Regions from separate parts of the Homo sapiens genome. Here region 2 is linked to region 1. A link means that fine-mapping ties the variant in region 1 to the expression of a gene that starts in the linked region. Tissue or cell type: putamen. Region 1 holds a variant in brackets; the other region holds the start of a gene. All regions are shown on one strand. Distances are between the middles of the regions.

Evidence for each region. PIP is the estimated chance that this variant, and not a neighbour inherited with it, causes the effect.
Region 2: CDC26 starts here. The variant in region 1 is fine-mapped to the expression of CDC26 in putamen (GTEx, PIP 0.92).

The regions. Positions count from the first base shown.
Region 1 is chr9:112,920,281-112,928,387 of GRCh38, forward strand. No RefSeq gene overlaps it. Among named protein-coding and RNA genes, the nearest start is that of SLC46A2, 33 kb to the left of the region's middle. The variant C/T (reference allele first, on the strand shown) is at 4,849.
Region 2 is chr9:113,271,724-113,279,830 of GRCh38, forward strand. It overlaps CDC26 (cell division cycle 26), which reads right to left and starts at 3,849. Exons shown (of 4, transcript NM_139286.4): 1 at 3,659-3,849; 2 at 1,606-1,715; 3 at 704-825. The coding sequence starts at 784. It overlaps PRPF4 (pre-mRNA splicing tri-snRNP complex factor PRPF4), which reads left to right and starts at 3,935. Exons shown (of 14, transcript NM_001244926.2): 1 at 3,935-4,047; 2 at 4,825-5,002; 3 at 7,222-7,408. The coding sequence starts at 4,021. RefSeq lists enhancers at 2,960-3,815, 3,583-3,922.

The DNA of each region.
Region 1 (8,107 bases):
GTTCTTAAACATTGATAGAAGAGGGACCCAGGGGAGGAAAGACCATAATCCTTGTTAATCCGCAGATGGAGGGTTTGAATGTTGGGCTCTGGGTCACCTCTGTGGGAAGTCATTTCTTATACCCCAACCTGGAATAAGGGGACTTTTCACATATAACTATGGTGTCCTTTTCAAAGGAAGATTGCATTGAACCAAGGGTTTATTGTTATCTTGGGATGTGTGTGTGTGTGTGTAAGTGTGCACGTGTGTGTGTGTGTGTGTGTACTTCTTTCTGGATTGTAGAGGTCTGGCATGCGTTCAGAAATTTCCAGAGACAAAGGCCTGGATCTTTCTTCCTTCTTCCAGTAACTCAGATACAATTGGAAGTATCTACCCCCTTAATTGTTGACTTACTGTTTAGGATATAAAGAGGAACTGGAATCTAACCTCCAAAAACTCAAAGGAGCTATTGAAACACAACTAGATATATAAGCTGAAAACCAATTGCATTGGATTTAGGACAATTGAATGTTTGGAATATCTGAGCTATGAGACCTGAGAGACTGTGCCATTTTCCCAATAATAAAATGAGGAGTTAGTCCATTGAGGAAGAGCCACACTCACTTAAGTTGAAATACTTGACTTCTAGCCCCAAGAGTCAGCCTTGCAAGATTTCATTCAAGGAATTTTTGCTTGTTGCTGACTTGTCCCTTTACTATACATGCATCATTCAGGAAGGATGTCTAATGAGATTGTAAAGTTAGAGACAGTAGCTCAGGAGCATTATTGAGCCTTAGGATGATGTAGCAAACAACAATTAGAGTTGTATGTCTTCTGCAAGAGAAGACCATAACTTTCACAAAGTTCAGAAAAGAGTCTGTTCTTTTGCTTGCTGTTATGCCAAGACTTCCACCTTAAACACCTAGATTAAAAACCTCCTACTATAGCAAAGGAGGGCCCTTATTAAACTTCAATGGCCATGAATCAACCCGGACCGTCTAAATGTCTAGACTCAATCATCAGTCCTTCCTTCTTTCCCAGAAAATGTTGGTAATGATGGTAGAAGACTGATCAAAACAGAAAGCATCCTGCAACCATAGCTGTCTATCCTTATCTCTCTTCCCCTCCCCCAAACACACACCAAAGCCTCAGATGCTATCAGATGAATTGCATACTCTGCTTTAGGTTCAAAGCATAAATGGAGGATGGAAATCTAACACTTGTGGAAGCCGAGGGAGGTTCTCATTTACAGGAGGCTAAGACTCATCTCCAAGATGATCCAAATTTATTTCATCCTGTATCATGATGAGATTCATAACTGGCTCACGGATTGAAAGGAGGTCCTCTTTCACTACACAGAGGAAGGACTTTTCAGGGAGTCACAGCCTGCAGATCTGCTATCCAGACAGCAGATGTCAGTAAGAGCCTCAGAGTCACCAGCATACGTTTTTAGAATGCTAGGTTTCTCTTGTCCTACAAGTCAGCCTGAGGGTTTAGATCACTCAGCCCTTGATATCTAAAGCCACAGCATGTTATCTCAAGGTGCTAGAGCTCAAAGGGAAATGACAACAGTTTGGCCAGATAGTGTGGTCATTACGGGAGTCTTATACAGAGAATCTTGTCCCATGGCTTCACTTAGTGTAGGTTGGGAAAGCATTAAGAATAGGTTTCTCCATGTTTTGAATGCCAACAAATAATGGAGAATGTGCCTTCCTTTATTGACTGTCCGTGTAAGAGGCAATCATGATCTCATTCTCCCCTAAGCTTGCTTTGTCCAAAATGTTACCCCAGAGACTTACAAGGGTCCTGCCACCAGTGATCTTTGAGTGGCAGGATGGGATCTCTGAGAAAGGAAACTTCTATACCATCTCCACCTCCCTCACACCAGTGTCGACCTTGGATGTGGAGAGATGGAGGCCTTCACACAAGTTTCTCTGTTGACCACTCCTAACCCTGGATCTGGAGTCTCCTCTGCTGATGTCCATAGAGCTTGTGGCCACTTTCCATGTCCGACTATTTCCTTTGACAGGAATTTGACTCTTCAGGAATTTTGTACTTATTACTCAACATCCATTCAAGACCAATTGGCCTAGGCCAATGTTGATGTTAAATTTCCCTAATAATTAAAGACATAAAAGTTACAATTATCATAAGATGGGAGAAAATCAGAATGGCAAAGAATAAAAAGGTGGCCAATAGCCCACTGGCTACAATGAAGCCATGATCACTCATACAGCAGCTGCAGGAGTTTAAACTGATGGCCCCTTTGGAGGCCCAAATTTTGCATTTGTGTGTGTGTGTGTACACACACCTAAGTTTTCTGTGAAGTCCATACTCTTTAATACCTACTTCTACTCCTAGGAATGTATTCTACAGAACTGTTCATTCAAGTACATAAAGCTGTATATGTGTTATATGTACAAGGGTGTTCATTTTTTATAAAAGAGCAAATATTGCAAACTTCTAACAGCTGACTGATAATAGTACTGCTCTACAATGGAACACTATAAAACTGTTAACAATATATGCTGGCTATCTTTTCACTTTTTTTTTGAAAATTTTTATTGTGGTAAAAGCGTATTTAACATAAAATTTGCCATTTTAACCATTTTAAGTGTACAATTCATTGGCATTAATTACATTTACAATATTGTGCAACCATTACCTCTGTTCCCAAAACTCTTTTTCATCACCTCAAATAGAAACTCTATGACCATAAAGCAATAACTTCCCATTTCCTCCCTCTATCACCAGTCTCTGGTAAGCTTTAATCTACTTTCCATCTCTCTGAATTTGTCTATTCTAGATATTTTATATAAACTGTCCTATTGCTAGTTTTGATCAAATGGAAATATACTGTTTTGAAAGAAGAAAGCGTAGTTACAGAAGAAAATAAGCTTAAAAACTAGGAAAATGAATTTTGGTAAGTAAGATCCCCTTTAGAAAAAACAGGGAAGAAACTGAAAAACTGTAGACTATTTCACATTTTTTGTTACCAAAAAATGAGGTGAGTCAAGCCCCTAGTTGGAATCTGGCCAAGTTGAGTTGAGGGCTGGGTGAAGGTTGAGCTGTTAGCGCACCAGCATCAGCTGCTCTGGAAATGTGGACACAAATCACAAGAATCATGATTTAATGTTTCTGTTTTAATCAGGAGAAAACACATACAAAGGAAGCAAATAATCACTAGAGGCCTAGCAAGTGGTTGACCACCCTGTCTTGGAAAGAAGGGCTGGGATGAGGTTTGGGGGTCTGGAGCTGAAGGACAGACTTTGAGTCTTATGTCAAATGATTGTTCTATAGTTTGTAACTTGCAAACTTCTGGGTTACATGCAAACCTCTTGTATTGTCCATTAACTTGGGTCATGGTTAAGATAGATTATCAATAAATATGTATGGGTTCAAAAAAATTAAGTTGTCCTATTGTATCTAGCTTATTTCATTTAACATAATGTTTTCAAGGTCTGTCCATGTTGAGTATGGTCAGAACTTTACTCCTTTTTAGGGCTGAATCCATTTCATTGTGTGCTTGTACCTCATTTTATTTATCCATTCATCTGTTCATGGACACTTGGGTTGTTTCCACATTTTGGCTGCTGTGAACAATGCTGTAATGAACATGAGTGGACCAATATTTGTATGATTTCCTGTTTTAACTCTTTGGGGTGTATACCCTGGAGTAGAATTTCTGGGTTGTGCAGAAATTCTATGTTGGGGCTTTTGGGGGAATTGCCAAATTGTTTTTCACCTCGACTTCACCATTGTACATTCACAGCAGCAATGTGCAAGAGTTTCACTTTCTCTGTATCCTCACCAACACTTGTTATTTTCTATTTTTTCCCTTCTGAGGTTTGCTGACTTAGAAGGTGTGAATTCATATTATTTTTTAGGTTAAATAAAAATCATGTTTCAGAATAAGATATAGTGGTGTATCCTACCAGAGATGATGTATTACTAGAGATTAAGTTTGTAGGTCCTCTTCCCCCACCAATCTTCTGTTACAATGAACCAATCATTCCACTCCTTGTATTTATTAGAGGTAGCTTCTGAAGAAGCTCCCTAAGAAAGAGTAGGTCCCTTAGAAAAATTACTTAGGGTATCCTTCCTTAGAAGGTAAGACAGGGGTTCCCCTGGAGTCCCTGAGTGTAGCCTCCTTTTGGGGAGGGGGACAAGTGAGTAGCCCCATTGTCTGGGGAAAGGGAAAACAGTCTGGCTCTGTTTTGAGGGCTTAAAGGAAAAAGTGGAGTGGGTTTCCGGGAAGGAATGGAGACAATTGTTTTGTTTGTGAGGTGATGGCCACTGGAACCAGATCTGATTCCCTGCTCTTCTGGGGCCCATGGAAACCTGGAGATTGCCTGCGATCAGGGGAAGGAAGGGAGGGTGACCATTCAGAACTATACCCTTAGGAGCACTGTGTTACTGTTGCAATCAGCTCTTCTCAATCTTTTCCAAATTATGGGACGACTGTAATAATCTTATAGATGGAGATATTAAATCAAAGAGAAGTTGACCATTTTTAAACCTTGGAGAGGCTGCTTCTGGCTGAAGTTACTGGGAGAAGCAATGAAAGAAAAGACAACTTACACTTCTTCACTTCATCTACCAAAATATGCAGTTCTATTTTCGTTTATAGAAACTTCAGGTGATAGATCAGTGATCAACAGTGCCCTGGGAACAGTGCTCCCACGTTTTTCTACACCCCTGACTTTTGCTTCTATGATACTGACTTTTTAAAGAGACAATTATCTTTTTAAACACCCCACCTTCTGGATTTGTTTGATAATTTTCTCACAGTGTTTTTTAACCTGTTTCTGTATCCCTTGAATTTCCTCTAAATTGGAGACTAGGGCTAAAGGCTTAAGTTCAAGTTTA[C/T]ATTTTTAGCAAGAATGTGTCGTAGGCGATGCGGTGGGAGTCATTTTGTATCACATAAGGAGACACAATGTCAGATTGCCCCACTATTGATGATGCTTAATCATTTGATTTGGATGGTGACCGCCAGATGTCACCATTGTAAAGCATGTTTTCCCTTCTGCCATATCGAGTGACCTGTGTAATCTCTTGAAAAATATTCGTGTCGACAAATCCTGTTTAGAATTTTCAAGTACCCGCTGCCCTCCACAACACTTTAATGAATTTGAGACTGTCTTTGTCATCTTGATACACAGTGCTCTGTAATTTATCCTTAAGTGGCTCAAACATGTCAAAATAAAAACTCACAGGATTATGCTAGACACCTAACTTCACAGTGCTCACACCACAGGGAAGGACCACCTTAGTCACTGTGAGAATTCACCATAATGGGCTGGTTGTTATTTTCCCCAGGAAGGGAGGGAAAATGGCTGCCATTGTAAACTGAGGAGCATAGAAATAAGACCAGCTTTGAGGAGGAACGGTGTTTTCTTCTTCTTTTTAAAGATATTTACATGTCAGCGGGTTTTACTTCTTGGAGGTAAATCACTTTCTAAATTTCTCCTTGGACTGTTCATTATAAAGTTGCTGTTTAATCTTCCTGGAACATAACCTTCAATTTTAAAGAATGCAAAGCTTTGTATTATTTGTTTAGTGAATCTATAGCGGTGCTTCCCAGCTTCCCAGTATTTTTCAGATTATTAGCATACATAGAAAGTGATAATATTGACATGATGCACTGTGGTGTGCTAGAGGAGCTTTAGGGGCATCATGTGGGACTTATTTTTCATTATATAATTATAATAAATATAAAATGCACATATTAGAAAATATATTAAAGATTCGATTTACAGGAAATTTCCAAAGACACTCTAAGTTTTTTTTTTTTTTCAAATGAAAAAACTTCAGCTTTCTACTATCAGTTTTTATGCTGGAAATACTGCCGTGAAATTTATGATTAAGAGTTTTAAGTAAAAACCTCTTCAAATTCTTGATAGCGCTCATCAGTGAAACTCTGCATCAGTAGGTGACCAAGTGTTTAACCATTTTTCTTCACAACCTTTGAGATTTTCTAAAAGTTAAAATTACAGTTAACATCACTTATTTTCTTTCATTGACAAATGTAAAGTTGAAATTTTGTGGTAAATTCATTTCAAATCCAATGGAACTTTTTTATATTCAGTATTTCAAAGCAATAATGAAGTTCTTATGAGCAGATCATCCACACATGGTTGGAAGAGTCATCTGGAGTTGCCCAGGCAACACTAAAAGGATTTCAGCTGCAAATGGCTAGCCTACATTTGAAGACGGATTTGTCCCCCACCCCACTACCCTCCGGCCCAGTTGCAAATAAAAGCATAAAGAATAATTCACCAACCCTCTCTGGGCACACCATCCAGCTTCAGTAATTAACATTTGACAATCTTTTTTTTCTTTTTTTTTTTTTTGAGATGGAGTCTCGCTCTGTGGCCCAGGCTGGAGTGCAGTGGCCTGATCTCAGCTCACTGCAACCTCTGCCTTCCAGTTCAAGTGATTCTCCTTCCTCAGGCTCCTGAGTAGTGGGGATTACAGGCGCATTCCACCATGCCTGGTTAATTTTTTGTATTTTTAGTAGAGATGGGGTTTCACCATGTTGGCCAAACTGGTCTCAAACTCCTGACCTCAAGAGATCCGCCCGCCTCAGCCTCCCAAAGTGCTGGGATTACAGGTGTGAGTCACTGCGCCCAACCAAGACAATCTCAATACATCTATTCTTGCCCCATGTTTAAAAATACTAACCAGAGTAGTATGAATCAAGAACCAGACATCGTGTCATTTTATTCAGAAATACTTCAGTATGTAAAAACACCTCATCATTAGTACACCTGACAAAAGTCAACATAATTCCCTTTATTAGGTGATATTCAAATGTATCTGTTGTTTCAAAAGAAGCATGTTAGTTGAATTATCTGAATCCAAAGTCCATTCATGGCATTTCATTGTTTCTTAAGTCTCCAAGTTCTTAAAAAATTTCCCACCCTTCTATCCCATTTCTTTCATGGAGAACTGGGGTATTTGCACTGTAGACTGTTCAACATGACATTCCAAATTTGCTGGGTTTTTCCTCTGGCTCCCACATTTCCTGAAATGGTTAGTTAGATCAAGAGGTTTGATGAGATTCAGGCTCAATTCTTTTTTAGGTGTGAAGCCCTCACAGCTGGTGCTGACTGGTTTCGGCTGCCTTGCATTAGGAAGCTTGTGTCTGTTGGTTCCACTTTGAGCGATGTCAAGACTAATTAGGAGGTTTACAGTTGACCATCTATTCCACCCACTATAAAGTTGCAATCAACTTTTCTCCTAATGGTCTAGCATCCCTTGATGGTTGTTGCCTAGATACAGGAGCTGCAAATGTCAATTTTTAAATCCTATTATTTCTTCCTTATTTATTTGCTGGAATGTTTCTGTAAATAGAAATTAACCTCATCAGCTCTGAAATACAGATTGTACGGAAAGGCAGATACATATTTGATTTTTCCCCTTTCTTTGTTGTTTTTCATAGTGTTGAGTTGTCCTAGCACCCTCCCGGGATGATCAATGGGGTTTAAAAATTTCTTTTAACTATCATTATAAGCTCATGTTTTGTGCTTCAGTCCATTGTAGTCCATGACACTGGTGCTTGAATTGTCCCATTTTAAGCCAGAGGGAACCTCCTCAAGTTGGTTTCTGAGTGCTTATTGACAAGGCCTTAGTGGTTTTTATGGTTTGTCTTTTGCTTTTTAGCACAGCAAGGCATCCCAGGATTACCTTGGATATGTCCTGCCCCAGAGATCAGCCATTTTGTCAAAGATCCCCAGTTTCTTCTAGTGAATTTACATTCTTTTTACAGTCCCCCCACTTTCTATTATATTTGGATTATTAATAATGGCTATTTAAATTTTCTATATTCTCATTATTTGTTTATCTGATATGTCCTTTTCTGGGTTAAAAATTCCATTATGCTTATGATCTTATCCATTTTCATTTATTGTTCTAAGAGATTTTACTAAGATGAAAATAATTTTGGAAGTGCAAAGAGCACATGCAAGAAATGTTCAGGAAAATATGGGTTAAATGGTTGATTTTTCAGGGAAAAGCTGTTTTTTGAGAGGTTGGGGGTGGGTAGAAGACTTGAGGATGGTGATGCTTGATTGTGGGGACCATTCATCTTGCAAGAATTCAATTAAAATTTGAAAACACTGAAAAA
Region 2 (8,107 bases), 350 kb after region 1:
AGACATACATGAAGTTTGAGATGCCTGTAAAGCATCCAAACAGAGATTTCAAATAAGCTGTTGGCTTAAGAGTCTGCAGTTCAGAAGTTAAAGTTATTGTGTATGTATGTGTGTGTATATACATATTTATGTATGACAGAGAGTCTCACTGTTGCCCAGTGTGGAGTACAGTGGAGCCATCATAGCACACTGTAACCTCAAACTCCTGGGCTCAAGCAATCCTCCCGCCTCCGCCTCCTGAGTAGCTCAGGCATGCGCCACCCTGCCCAACATAGAGACAAGGTCTCACTATGTTGCCCAGGCTGGTCTCAAACTCCTGGCCAGAAAATGCTGGCATTACAGATGTAAGCCACTGTGCCCACACAAGAATTATTATCTTAAATATTCCTTAAGCTTTGAAAGTTGTATTCATGGCTGGGTGCAGTGGCTCACGCGTGTAATCCCAGCACTTTGGGAGGCTGAGGTGGATGGATCACTTGAGGTCAGGAGTTGAGACTAGCCTGGCCCCAACATGGCAAAACCCCAACTCTACTAAAAATAAAAAAATGAGCTGGGCGTGCTGGCATGAACCTGTGGTCCCAGCACGCGGGAGGCTGAGGCAGAGGAGGCAGAGGTTGCAGTGGGCCAAGATCATGCCACTGTACTCCAGCCTGTGTGACAGAGCGAGACTCCATCTCAAAAAAACACAAAGTTGTATTCATACCTCCAGGTCCTTTCGAATGTTCTCAAACTCTTCAATGTCATCAAGCTTTAGCTCTAGGCGTGTTGGTTTCCGTCTCAGCATACTGAAGTCAACACTAAGGGCCAAACCCAGTGAACTATTAGCTGTTAAAAATGAAAGAGAGGAGGAAAATCTGAAGGTGATAAAGTCTCAGATACAAAACATAAAATCAATTTGCAAGCATGTATACTAAAGTGAATGGAAATATTAAAAATTTATTTGAATTTACACATAGACTTCTAAAGTCTTTTTTTTTTTTTTTTTAAGAGATAGGATCTTGCTCTTTGCCCAGGCTGGAGTGCAGTGGCATGACCTTAGCTCACTACAGCCTCAACTTCCTGGACTCAAGCAATCTTACTGCCTCAGCCTCCAGAGTAGCTGGGACTACAGGCGTACACCGCCATACCTGGCTAATTTTTGTGTTTTTTGTAGAAATGGGATCTCTCTCTGATGCCCAGGCTGGTCTCAAACTCTTGGGCTCAAGTGTTCCTCCCTCCTCATTTTCCCAAAGTGCTGGCATTATAGGCAAGAGCTACTGTACCCAGCCAACTTCTAAAGTCTTTAGGTATGTGATTATTACATTTTTGTTACATTATGGAGATCTACAGCTCTATAAAATCAAAAACTCTTTCTGTAAGAATTTAAAATAGCAAACTGCCTATAAGAGAGAAATTCTAGGCAACCATCACTTTAATCTCATGTTCCAGTCACATTCAAAGAACTACTCTAGCTAAAAGAATAAACTATCACATCTTAGTATAGTTAGAGGAAAAAGTGGACAAACCAGTGAATTTAATCTACCCTACATGAGAATTGTCAGAGATTTGTGATCACTCTTGAATGCTAAAATCAGTTTGCTAAATCTCAGGAAAACTCCAACTCACCAATTCACAGGATTATCCTCCGCGTCCAAACAGATCTTAAATGTGTACGTCATTCATTAAACAAACACTTCTTGTGTTCCAGCTACAAAGTTAAAAGGTACAGTCATAATCTGTGGGGAAAACAAAGAGAAAACTGTGATATCATGTAATGAGAACCCTGATGAGGATACTAGCACTGGCATCACACAGGCACCTAATCCAGTCTGGGCTGAGTGTGGGGTGGACAAGGATGTCAGGCAAGCCTTCCTGGAGAAAATGATGTCTTAGTTGACTTCTGAAGGTCAGGCAGAGAGAAGAATGCACAAGGAGGCTCAAGTACAGCTTTGGTAACGTAGCAAGACCCTGTCTCTACAAAAAAGTAAAAAAAATAGCTGGGCTGGTAGTGTGTACCTGTAGTCCTAGCTACTCAGGAGGCTGAGGTGGAAGGATCACTTGAGCCCAGGAGTTTCAGGTTGCCACCGTGAGCCATGACCTCACCATGAGACCCCAACTCAAAAAAAAAAAAAAAAAAAAAAAAAGGCTCAAGAGAGCATTCCACAGCCTGAAATCCCAAGGTAATACTATGTTAACAAAAACCATTTTGTTTTGTTTTGTTTTTGAGAAAACACAACCCCCCAACTGAGTTTAATATCTGTTGATGGCATCATTTGTATATTCTCCACAGCATCCCCTAGAGTGTATCTATAAAAACAGTCAGTAAATGTTTGTTGACTAGAAGGTGAGATCATTCTTGAGCACCGTGCTGTTTTTCCATTCCCATTCTTTACATTCTTATTTTAACACAAAAACCCTGTGAAGTTGACAAAATGATTCCTATTTCACACATAAAGAAGTCATCGAAGCAAGCTGTTCAGTTTGGTTAATAATTTTAGCCTCCTATAAAAATTATAAAGGTCAACATGATAAGCATTAAGTGAAAATGATGGAAGTGAAAACTCCTTGAAAGTATGTACAGATACAAATTATTACACGTATCTAGGATGAAACTAAGGACTGTGAAGTATACAAAGGAAGAAATAGTTCCTTCTCCCATGAAGCTTAGGATACTACAGGTGATATTATCAACACAAAACACTGGCACATTACATTTCAAATTCCTTTGTACTAAATCAGGCATTATCTTCTACCAGATTCCAATGCAGACAAATGGTAGAGAAAGCCAAAGTTCCAAAGAGGGAAAGAGAGGGATAGGGATACCTAAAAGGGGGAAAAAAAAATCTATACATTTTACCTTTTCTGCAAACTGCAAAAAACTGGCCACTAGGGAGCAGTATAGATTAACAGTTAAAAGTGCTGGCTGTAGAGGTTAAAGGGCACAGGTTTTAATCCCACTACACCACCGATCCTGAACAATTCGTTTCATTTCTCACTAGACCTTAGTTCCCTCATCTGTATCCTACTCTGCTGTTGTAGGAAGTCAATAACGTAATACAGAGTAAGCTCTTGGAATATTATTTGGCATTTAATAAATGTTCAATAAATAACATCTATTATTGCTGTAATTGTTCTAGGGGGTTGCATGAGGATCTGGCCAGCTAGGGAAACGTCAATATTTTGAGGATCTCCCACCGCCCATGTGGGGATAAAAACCTTATCCTGTTCGTCTCTAATGCCCCAGCATCCAGCAGGGCAGAGAGACGTACAGAGTTACCTGACACCTTCCTATCCATCATCTTACTCTCAATCTGATACAAAGACCAGGCTGAAGACAAATCAACAAAATCAGGCCGAAGCTCCTCCGCCGGGTCTTTATTTGACTTTGGCACTAGCGGGCTCTTCTAGCTTAATCTCCCGCCGCAGCCCAAATCCACCGCCGAGCCATCAAGCTCAGAGGGGGAGCCTGGGAAGACTTCCGGACCATGGAGGAGAACAGTCCTCGTCCCCTAGCTCCAGGCCTGTACCTCGGAGCCCAGGCAAGGGTTTCTATGGTAACATGGTCCTCGGCTCCAAGAAGACGTAAACGCCCCCGTACGCCCGGGGGGCACAGCGGACCCCGGAAGCCCTTGACTCGCTCCAGAGTTCAGCCCCGAGCCGCGCGAGTCGACTCACCTACCTCTTTTCAAGCCGGCCTAGCCCCTTCCCGGAACCTCGGCTCCCCCCCAACGAAACTACTGCTAAGCCAACTGGACTACACTTCCCAGACTGCTTGGAGCCTCTCTCTCCGCAGAACCTCGTCTTCCGCGAGCTTTTCCTGGAGGTTCTAGGAGGGATGCCCCTCAATGCCACGACGCCATTTCCTACTACGACTTCCATCATGCTCCGCGCCGCTCCGGGGGCGGTGACCCCTCTTGGCCCACGTCTTGTCAGTGACGCACTTCCTGTCAGTGACGCACTTCCCCTCTGCTGGGCGCGCGGTGGACGGTCTGAAAGGGAGTGTTCGGGTTTCGCTGGGGCCTCGCGGCTCCAGAGCCCAGCATGGCTTCCTCGCGAGCCTCTTCCACGGTACAGAGCCCGGGATCCCAGCTCACTCTGGCAGGGAGCGCTAAGGGGGAAGGGGATCTCTGCGGGAAGGGGCCGTTAAGGAGCGGGAGAAGGCGGTGGAGGGCTGAGGAGGAAGGCTGCGGGACTCAGCGGTGTCCTACACAGCGGACCACCGTTTTCCTGATCCCTAAGCGCTTTCGTGGACTGTAGCTTATTTGCACCTCTCCCACTACAGCCCCAAAGGGCAAGCATCTCTTCCGACTCATCCAGTAACGGTGCTCTGAAATAGGGAAGTGTCTTGGCCAAGGTTTATGCCTTTGGCAGATCTCAGAATTTTAATGAGACCTACTAACTCCTACTACCTCACGTCTAGGAACGTTTGAAATGTATACACTTGTAATGTTGTAACTTGTTATCCTTTAGCACCGCGTTGGTTATTTCATCTATCCTTAGTATTTCCCCAGTGATAAGCAGTAATCCGGGAAGCATAAAACACGAGATTGAACACTTCCAACGGAATGAAGTAAACAGATTTCAGAGCAAACCTTTCATAGGAAAATACCCGAGAGAACCTCACTAGTTTTATTAATCCCATCAACCAAAGTGAGGGACTGAAACACCCTCACCCTACCTTCACCTCCTCAAATCAATGAAGAGCGTCTTAAGTAGTGTCCAATTTGTCCTTTCAATTACAGAGGAAACAGGACTGTGAAACTCAGGGTGAGCTTCATCCTCTGGTGAAGTCCGGTAAATTGCCAAGATTAAACCTTAGTTTAATGCAGATCTTTGATTTAGCAGGCAACCAAAACTAAAGCACCCGACGACTTAGTTGCTCCGGTCGTGAAGAAACCACACATCTATTATGGAAGTTTGGAAGAGAAGGAGAGGGAGCGTCTGGCCAAAGGAGAGTCTGGGATTTTGGGGAAAGACGGACTTAAAGCAGGGATCGAAGCTGGAAATATTAATATAACCTCTGGTAAGATGCAAATTGTGAGCCCATCTTTACCTCTTTGTGTAATGAATACCTTTCTAAACTTAAATACCACAGTTTTATAATGTCAAAAAATTACAATTTTTTTTTTTTTAAACAGAGTCTCGCTCTGTCGCCAGGCTGGAGTGCAGTGGTGCGATCTTGGCTCACTGCAACCTCCGCCTCCCGGGTTCAAGCAGTTCTCCTGCTTCAGCCTCCCGAGTAGCTGGGATTACAGGCGCACACCACCACGCCCGGCTAATTTTTGTATATTTAGTAGATATGGGGTTTCACCATGTTGGTCTGGCTGGTCTCAAACTCCTGACCTTGTGATCCGCCCGCCTCGTCCTCCTAAAGTGCTGGGATTACAGGTGTGAGCCACTGTGCCCGGCAGAATTTCAATTCTTAAACTTGCAGCTATAAGGCTGTATTTTGCCTACCCCCTTATTATCATGCAGAGAGCCTTTTTCTTACAATCTGTTATATAGTTTTTCTTCTATGAGTGAGCAGTCTTATCAAAAATTCAGTGTACATTTGGATTCAGATTGATTCCATTTGTCTTCTGGAGATCTAACATAGTTCTGGCATTGGTTTGCAGCTAGAGTGGTTCATGATATTCTCCCTTTTGAAGTTTTGTAATTATTTTTTACCCAAAGTGAAATCTTTTTGTGTGTGTGTGTGTGTGTGACAGGGTCTCACTCTCTTGCCCAGGCTGGAATGCAGTGGCGTAACCTTGGCTCACTGCAACCTCTGCCTTTTGTGTTCAAGGGATTCTCCTGCCTCAGCCTCCCGATTAGCTGAGATTACAGGTGCCCGCCACCACACCCAGCTAATTTTTGTATTTTTAGTAGAGACTGGGTTTCACCATGTTGCCCAGGCTGGTCTCCAACTCCTGACCTCAAATGATCCGCCCACCTCGGCCTCCCAAAGTGCTGGGATTACAGGCGTGAGCCACTGCACCTGACTGAGCTATCTTTTTTTATTATAAAAGTAATAGTGGCCAAGCCTGGTGGCTCACACCTGTAATCCCAGCACTTTGGGAGGCTGAGAAGCGGGAGTCTGGCTTGAGCCCAGGAATCCAAGACCAGCCTGGGCAAATAGTGATACCCCATCTCTACAAAAAGTAGAAAATTAGCTGGGCATGGTGACACGTGCCTGTATTCCCAGCTAATTGGGGTTCTGAGGTGGGGGTTCAAGGCTGCAGTGAGTCATGACTGTGCCACTGCACTCCAGCCTGAACAACAGAGCGAGACCCTGTCTCAAAAAAAAAAGTTATTTTCTTTTAAAAGATCAATGTATAAATGTGTGAAGTAGAAAATCCTGTATTTTTAAAATTAATTGATTGTATATCTTTCTGAGAATTTTAATACAGCTAAAAAGTATGTAATTTTTTCCATAAATGAAAACACAATACGTAAATTGTTGTATAACCCCCATTTTTCATTTATATACCATTGAGGATATCTTTCCATGTCAGTAATGAGAGGTCTACTATATTTTAAAAATAAAATTATGCATATTTGTCCTAAGAAATTCAGACAATGCCAAAGGGCATAAAATGAAGACTCCTCTGCAGTAGGGACATCTGTCAGGTTTCTTATTGATCCTCCCACACATTTTCTAAACACATGCACTGTAGCCTAGTGACTTTTTAAACTTTTAATACTGTTTTTAAACATAACGTCACCACTGTACCTCTCATTTTTTATCACACTTGTATTTTGGTGTGGGTTTCAAAACTATTGCTAGATTATCCAGAAATCCTTATAGTTGTGGAACTCTCATTTTCCTGGTAATTATTTGCAGTTTAGTAGTTAATGATTTGTTAAGTATCCCTATACTGGGTCTCCTTTCGAGAATAAATAGCTTTGGCTGTTGTTACAATAATGTTTCTGTTACATCTTCTGGATAGACAGCCTAGTTAACTCATTTGCAAAAGATGTTCTGTACTCTTACTTGCTGGTCTCAGCCAAAGTGTGTGTTTATATAGGCACAAAGTTAATAAATGAAACAAGAGGTGGCTTGAACCATTTTCTTGCCTTTTGAAGCTGTGTCATTTAGGTTTATGTGTTTGGCATAATTTAATAAACTGAAAAACAGTAAACTATAAAATGTGTAATAGACAGTTACTTTTCCCTCAGGGCATACACAGACTGCAATTACTAGAAATTATTTCTCTCTATTTGAAGAAGATCTGCTGATGTTGCCTGTTTTCTTTTTAATAGGAGAAGTGTTTGAAATTGAAGAGCATATCAGCGAGCGACAGGCAGAAGTATTGGCTGAGTTTGAGAGAAGGAAGCGAGCCCGGCAGATCAATGTTTCCACAGATGACTCAGAGGTCAAAGCTTGCCTTAGAGCCTTGGGGGAACCCATCACACTTTTTGGAGAGGGTCCTGCTGAAAGAAGAGAAAGGTTGCCTTTCTAAATATTTACTTTTTTTCTTTATTATAATCACAGGGTTCTACTCCAAATTTTGGTTGATCATTTAGTTGAACTTTAATAGAATGTCTCAAATCATGTTAACAATATCTTACTGTGTTTATATGAGTTAGCCCATAATCTGTCTTAGGCCAATTTTTACCGCACTATTAATGTTTCTTTTTTGTGTTTGTTCGTTTTTGTTTTGTTTTGTTTTGTTTTGTTTTGTTTTGTTTTGTGTTTTGAGACAGAGTCTTGCTCTGTCACCCAGGCTTGAGTGCAGCGTCGTGATCTCGGCTCACTGCAGCCTCCGCCTCCCGGGTTCAAGCGATTTTCCTGCCTCAGCCTCCCAAGTGGCTGGGATTACAGGCACCTGCCACCACATTTTTCTTTTTTGTATTTTTAGTTATTTTTTATATTTTTGTATTTTTAGTAGAGACAGGGTTTCACCATGTTGGCCAGGCTGGTCTTGAACTCCTAACCTCAAATGATTTACCCACCTTGGCCTCCCAAAGTGCTGGGATTACAAGCGTGAGCCTTCGTGCCTGGCCCGTTTTTCTTTATAGACTTGGAAGAGGGTGCTAACATGCTCCCTTGCCTCCCCTCCCCAGTGCGAGTTTTGAATTGGATAAACATTTGTTGTTGGGCTTTGAAAATTGAGACATCAAATGCATTCCATATCAATGACATAGA